Homo sapiens: one gene and its partner. The protein of the gene in region 1 interacts with the protein of each later gene in a pairwise test. Each region holds a gene or a part of one and is shown on either strand. Other genes may lie near its edges.

Region 1 (3,750 bases):
AATTTTGTATTTTTAGTAGAGATGGGGTTTCACCATGTTGGCCAGACTGGTCTCAAACTCCTGACCTTGTGATCCGCCCACCTTGTCCTCCCAAAGTGCTGGGATTACAGGCATGAGCCACTGCGCCCGGCTTTTTTTTTTTTTTTTTTTTTTTTTTTGGAGATACGGTCTTGCCGTGTCACCTAGGCTAGAGTGCAGTGGTGCTATCTCGGCTCACTTCAGCGTCAACTTCCCAGCCTCTAGCCATCCTCCCTCCTCAGCCTCCAAAGTAGCTGAGACTGTAGTCCTGTGCCACCATGCCCAGCTGATGTTTGTATTTCGTGTAGAGACAGGGTTTTGCCGTGTTGCCTAGGCTGGTTTGGAACTCCTCAGTTCAAGTGCTCCACCAACCCTCAGCCTCCCAAAATACTGGGATTACAGACGAGTGCTGAAATTATTTTTAGTTTTTTAGGTTAACTCATTTGACATAAGAAGTACGAATAGATAGCCAGAGAGCAAACAAAGATAGCTAGAGCAATCATGTGAAATGGCAACTGTGTGGATGTTGAAATATTGATCATTATTTCTTTGGCTGTTTATGGTAGAGAAAGGCATTTGAAGAAGAAAGAGCCAGTTGGTTAAAGCAGCAGTTTCTAAATATGACTACCTTTGACCACCAGAACTCAGAAAATGTGAAACTTTTCAGTGCCTTCTCAGGAAGTGAGTACTTTATAAACTCTTTAATTTGAACATGCATATAAATAAAATTATTTACATATTACAAAATACTACATATTATTAATACAAAACTTTGGAAATCACCAATTAGAGCTCTCTAATTATAACTAAAAGTCAACTTTTTTTTGTTTGTTTTTGAGACGGAGTCTTGCTCTGTCGCCCAGGTTGGAGTGCAGTGACGTGACCTTGGCTGACTGCAACCTCTGCCTCCCAGCTTCACGCGATTATCTTGTCTCAGCCTCCTGAGTAGCTGGGATTACAGGCATGTGCCACCACGCCTGGCTAATTTTTGTATTTTTAGTAGAGACGGGTTTTTACCATATTGGCCAGGCTGTTCTTGAACTCCTGACCTCAGGTGATCCACCCATCTCAGCCTCCCAAAGTGCTGGGATTAGGCATGAGCCACTGCGCCTGGCCTAAAAATCAACTTTAATATTTTATTTACTGTAGTGAAAGTGAGGATGAGAGGGGGACTGTGCATGCCCAAAGTAACTTTTGTTGTGAGTTTGTAATAATGCGAAGTTTTTGAAAATTTACATTGAGAATTTCTTTTTTCAAGATGTAGTCTTGCTCTGTCACCCAGGCTGGAGTGCATCTCGGCTCTCTGCAGCCTCAGCGTCCTGGGCTCAGGCAATCCTCCTTGCCTCAGCCTCCTGAGTAGCTGAGACTATAGGCACACACCACCATACCCAGATAATTTTAAAAACTTTTTTGTAGAGACAAGCCCTCGCTATACTACCCAGGCTGGTCTCAAACTCCTGGCTTAAGCAGTCATTCCGCCTCACCTTCCCAAAGTGCTAGGATTACAGGTGTGAGCCACCCCACCCAGCCTAGAAATATTTTTAAAACTAGATCCTTTTGGCTGGGCACGGTGGCTCACGCCTGTAATCCCAGCACTTTGGGAGGCCGAGGCAGGTGGATCACGAAGTCAGGAGATCGAGACCATCCTGGCTAACACAGTGAAACCCCGTCTGTACTAAAAATACAAAAAAATTAGCCAGGCATGGTGGCGGGCCCCTGTAGTCCCAGCTACTCGGGAGGCTGAGGAAGGAGAATGGCGTGAACCCAGGAGGTGGAGCTTGCAGTGAGGCAAGATCGCATCACTGCACTCCAGCCTGGGTGACAGAGCAAGACTCCATCTCAAAAAAAAAAAAGATCCTTTTAAACATGGGTGGACTATGCAACAAAGATAAGCAAGATTAATGATAATTAATTTGAATTTGTTCCATCTCTTTCCTCACTCAGAACCGCAGATGAATCATCCTGATGATTTACCTTCACTATATTTAATGCCTCACCATATGTACTGCCTTTTTCTCTTACTTGTTTTACAACAGGTTCTGATTGGGACAATCTTATAGTGCACTCGAGGCAGCCGCAAAAGAAGCCTCACAGTGTGTCTAATGGGTCTCCAGTTTGCATGTCTAAACTTACTAAATCTCTTCCTGCTTCACCTTCCACTTCAGACTTTTGCCAGACACGTTCCTGCATATCTGAACATAGGTATTTGTCTATAGGTGATCTTTTCACGTGTTTCTAAAAATTGCTAAAGTTGCACTGCTAAGGGAAAGGTGGCATGTCTGTAGTATTAGCAACAATAGAGATTTTGGAGAGGAATTTAGTAGATGATTTATTCATTCTACAAATATTGAGTGTCCAGTATATATAGACACTGTGCTAGATGCTGGAAATACACTAGTGAACAGGTAGATCTGTTGTCTTCTTGGAGGTAAATCATATGATGTGTGTCTTTTTATTTCACATTTAAGATACAATTTAGAATGTAGTCTTAATTATAGGAGTTAATATTTTAAGCACTTTAATTGTATTAAATGGAAGGATATTGTTTTGACAGTTTTTGTAGAGTACATATCTTAACACTTTTTTCCGGCATGCCCATTTTATTGTTGTTGAAGGGCAAAGAACTGAGAAAAGCCTGTTCCTGTTGAGTGAAAAAGATTTGTGCCCAAGGATGACAGTGTAAAAAAACATGGCTCTCCACCCTGGGAAACCCATATGTTGCTCTTAATTGCTACATTTTGGTGTTTTCCTGTATCTCAAGTTATTATATCATTTTCTAAGATAAGATCAATACTCTGCTTCAGTGCCAATTCCAAGATTAGTTTTAAACGAAGAAGAGGAAGCAGGTAGAACATTCCTAGTAAGACAGAGAGGAATAGAAAAGATCAGAGGGGTAAGTTGGAAAGTATGGTGGTAATCTCTTTGCTCTTAATTAAAAGTAGGAGATAATGGCCTTGGAAAACAGTCAGAGCTGAAGCAAACTCGGCCTGTGTTAGAGACTGGAGTGGAACTAAGTGTCGAAGAAGCCAGCTGGCCCTTGGGCCAAGAATTATGAAATAGATGGAGTTTAAAACAAGAAAGGAAGCTTTTAAAAGAAGGAGGAGAACACACTATAAGTTGTAGTTGACTTTTAAGAGGTGGGGGGATTAGGACTCCAAGTAAATGTTAGAGGGGATGAAAAAGAGCTAGGTAAGAGCACTCTAGCCAAGTGTAGGAACCCTGAGGGTGGGACACACCTCATACATTTGCAATGGTGACCAAGACCTAGAGGTGTGAGATGAGGATGGAGAGATGTAAAAGTTCAAATATACAGAGAGGATAAGATCGTGAACCCACGTGTACCTATGACTCAGGTTCAGCAATTATTAACTCTGATCAATATTGTTCATATATAATCCCACTCTGCTTGCTCTCTCCACCCCAGCCCCAACACATCTGGGATTTCATTTACAGAATATTTTAGTGTGCATTTGCAGGTCAAATATTGTTCTAAGGGGAATAGAAAAAACACTAGTTTTAAGCAAGAGAGTGAAAAAAAGTCTTAAGTTTTAAAAAGATTACTGTTTTATAATATTGAAAACAGATTGTAGGAGTCTGTAATATAAACCAGGAAATCCAGTTAGGAGGCACTATTGGAGTGGAAACGAAAGACAATGGTAATTGGACTAGGGTCATAATATGAAGGAAGAAATGCTTGGATTTGGGATCTATTTTGAAGTTAGACCAGTAGAT
Region 2 (3,750 bases), on another chromosome or scaffold:
TTCCTTAGAGAAGTATTTGGCAATATCATCGAAGGCCTACAAAAAAAAAAAAAAGGAATTATGGCAGGGACTCAGCTAGGCATGTCTGCCATTCAGCTGGAGCCGCTTCCTGTGTGCTAGATCTGGGAACTGGGGATGATAATCCTTCCTGGTTGATGCCATGGCTAACTGACAGAACACGAGGGACCTTCCCTAGCTTCACCCCTGCCACACAGTAGGGCTTTAATGCTGCTGGCTGGCTCTCTTCCCACCTTCCAGAATGGACTGAGAGTCACCAGATGTAGTGCAAGGTCACAGACTTGTCTCCAGGGATGCTAGGTGATGACAGAGCGAGGGTGGGAGGCTCCCAAGGGTCCAGATCTCCCCCGAGACCCTGCTCCTTGTCTCCAGTATCTCTGTCCTCCCCTCCTCAGAAACCGGGTCACCCCACACTGTCCCCTGGGCCACTACTCTGCTCCCTCCAGGTCACCTCACCTTTTGGATCTTCTCTGGTATTTGAGCACCAACCGTGGGTCTCCTTGCAAAGGCGTCGTCTCCGTTCATGGCACCGGGAGCAGTCTGACCTGCAAGAGAAATAGCCTGAGTCTTTCCAGCCACAGCAGCTTTGATCCTGTGGAGGGAGAAGTCAGTGAAGGCCGGCCACCCTCAGTCACCTGGAATCAGCTGCTGCATTTCTCCATCCGGGGCTTATCTGTCCCTGAGTAAGGATATGGGGAGAAATCAGATGAAAACAGGGAACCAGGGGTCTCTGGGAGAAGTATTGATAGGGAATGACAGGTTTCCTATGGGCAAAGCAGCCTTGAGTCTTTGGGAGGGGGTTGGCTAATGTTGTTAGTAGTTTCCCTGGAGCTAGGCTTACCCTGAAAGATGTACGGACCCTTTTTGGGGAGGCAGGGACATGACTGTGTAATTTTATTCAGTGGGGGCATGCTGACACCCCCACTCAATAAATAAAGGAAGGGAAGTTAGTCCCAGAGATAACATGGTCTCTTTGGCGATGGATCTGATCAGGCAGAGGGATGGGGGGTTCTGTTCTGTTGAAGAGAAATGAGCATCGCTAATATGAACGTGTTCAGAGGCTATTACTCGGTGATTTGTAAATTATTAGAAGGAAGAGAGCTAGAATTTCTGAGACTACAAGAGCCCGCCATCACTTAGAGAGAATGTGGGGCATTTCAAGATGCAGCAATCAGCCAGGCGCCGTGGCTCACGCCTGTAATCCCAGCACTTTGGGAGGCCGAGGCGTGCAGGCCGCTTGAGCCCAGGAGGTCGAGACCCGGCTGGGAAACACAGCAAAACCCCCGTCTACAAAATACACAAAAAGTTAGCTGGGGTTGGTGGAGCAGGCCTGTACCATCCCAGCACTTTGGAAGGCCAAGGTGGGCGGATCGCCTTAGCCCAGGAGCTTGAGACCAGGCTCGCAAACGTAGCAAAACCATCTCTACTAAAAAAAACAAACAAAATTTAGCAGAAGCGGGGTGGTGCGCGCCTGTAGCCCCAAGGCCTAGGCGAGAGGCTCACTTGAGCCCAGGAGGAAAGATTTGAGTGAGCTTTTTTGGTTTTTGTTTTTTCAGACAGGGTCTCGCTCTGTTGCCCAGTCGGGAGTGCACTGGCGTGATCATGGCTCACTGCAACCTCCGCCTCTTAGGTTCAGGCGATCCACCAGCTGTGGCTTCCAAAAGTGCAGGGATTACAAGTGTAAGCCACCACGCCCGGCCCAAATTTCTTAAGTTACTACAGAGTTCCTAGGAAAAATCCCGTACCTGAAAAAGTTAGAAACTGACAGGAAAGATTCGAGATGGCGGCCTGCCTCATATACACTCCTTATTAAAACTAGATAGCAAATGCACCGCGGAGGAGGGGAGGGGTAGGAAGAATGGAAAAAGAAAATCGGCGTATGCTTACTCTGATTTTGGAAGAATCCAAAGAGAAAATCAGACCGTGCGTACTCTGAGTATGGAAGAATCGAAAGAGAGAGAAAGTCAGAGCATGCGTACTCTGAACTTAAAGTAGCCAATCCCAGGGGATGCTTTAGGCGGGAAAATTAGAGTCTCCACCCCCACTTTGAGAAGGTTCCGTCCCTGGAGCCGGGACTGATAGAAGCCACATCCGCTTCGCTTGTTCCGCCTACTGTTCTGACTTCTAATTGGCCAGATGGAGTTCACTAACTGCCCTGATTGGTCCATCATCCTTGGGCAGTGACATAGCAGAATAATGTCTCCTCCTCCAGCCACACTTTGTTGCCACTGCGAAAAAGTGGGTGGTCCTCAGGCGCCGTCAGATTTTGAACTCTCTGAAGACCGTTCCTGGATCTTGGGTTAAAAATCTGGATTCTAGTCTGAACTGTGGGAAGAAAAAAATAGTCAATCTGTGATTTTTCTACTTGAAAGACACGATGTTTTCCAAACTAGCACATTTGCGGAGGTTTGCTATACTTAGTCGTGGCTTTCATTCTTCAGTGGCTTCTATGTCTGTTGCCACTGAAAAAACAGTCCAAGGCCCCGCAACCTCTGCTTACATTTTTGAAAGGGAATCTTAAGTATGGTGCGCACAATTACCATCCTTTACCTGTAGCCCTGAAGAGAGGAAAATGTATTTACTTATGGGATGTGATTGTGGTATTGGTTACATCTGCCTTGGCCAATCCTCCAGCCTCCGTCTTGGGACTACAGGCGCGAACCACCCTACCCCCACTAATATTTTTTATTTTTTGATTTTTTAATAGAGAAGGTTTCGCTGTGTTGGCCAGGCTGGTCTTGACGTCGTGGGCTCAAGCGATCCTCCCACCTCGGCCTCGGGACTACAGGCATTCACCACCCAGCCCACGCTTTTTTTTTTTTTTTTTTTTAAGTAGAAACCAGGTTTTGCTATGTTGGCCAGGCTGGTCTCATCGTCCTGGGCTCAAGGGATCCTTCCGCCATGGCCTCGAGACGACAGGCATGCACCACCCTGCCCACGCTTTTTTTTTTTTTTTTTTTTTTAGTAGAAACCGTGTTTCCCTATGTTGGCCAGGCCGGCATCAAGCTCCTGGACTCAAGGGATCCTCCCATCTCAGGACTACAGCCATGCACCACCCTGCCCAAGCTATTTTTTGTTTTGTTTTGTTTCGTTTTAGTGGAAACCGGGTTTCGATATGTTGCCCAGGCTGGCCTCAACCTCTCAGGCTCAGATGATGCTTCCACCTCGGCCTCAGAACTATAGGCGTGTGCCATTCTACCCCGCTCATTTTTATTTATTTATTTATTTATTTATTTTTTAGGAGAGGCAGGCTTTCGCTTTGTTGGCCAGGCTGGTATCAAACTCCTGGGCTCAAGCAATGCTCCCACCTTGGCCTCAAAACTACAGGAGTGAGCCACCCCGCCCACGCTATTTTTCTGTTGTTCTTGTTGTTAGCAGAAATGGGGTTTCGCTATGTTGGCCAGGCTGGCCTCGACCTCCTAGGCTCAAGCAATCCTCCCGCCTCGGCCTCGGGACTATGGGCTCACACCACCCCGCCCCCACTAATATTTTTAATTTTTCTATTAGAGACAGTTTCGCTATGTTGTCCAGGCTGGGCTCTACCTCTGGGACTCAAGTGATTCTCCCGCCTCGGCCTTGGGACTACAGGCATGCACCACCCTGCCTTTTGCTATGTTTCCCAGGTTGGTCTTGACCTCCTGGGCTCACTCAATGATTTGAACCCGGGAAGTGGAGGTTGCATTGAGCTGAGATCACACCACTGCACTCCAGCTTGGGCGACAGAGCAAGACT

The links.
Region 2: the proteins of SSX2IP (region 1) and SSX2 interact in binary tests that used the Homo sapiens proteins (3 or more experiments, as listed by UniProt).

Annotation. Positions count from the first base shown.
Region 1 is NC_000001.11:84,648,832-84,652,581, reverse strand, and holds part of SSX2IP (afadin- and alpha-actinin-binding protein), read left to right. Parts: intron 1-584; coding exon 585-699; intron 700-2,054; coding exon 2,055-2,220; intron 2,221-3,750. UniProt on the Homo sapiens protein: Belongs to an adhesion system, which plays a role in the organization of homotypic, interneuronal and heterotypic cell-cell adherens junctions (AJs).
Region 2 is NC_000023.11:52,705,207-52,708,956, forward strand, and holds the start of SSX2 (protein SSX2), read right to left. Parts: upstream 1,973-3,750; 5' UTR 1,906-1,972; intron 564-1,905; 5' UTR 544-563; coding exon 475-543; intron 37-474; coding exon 1-36.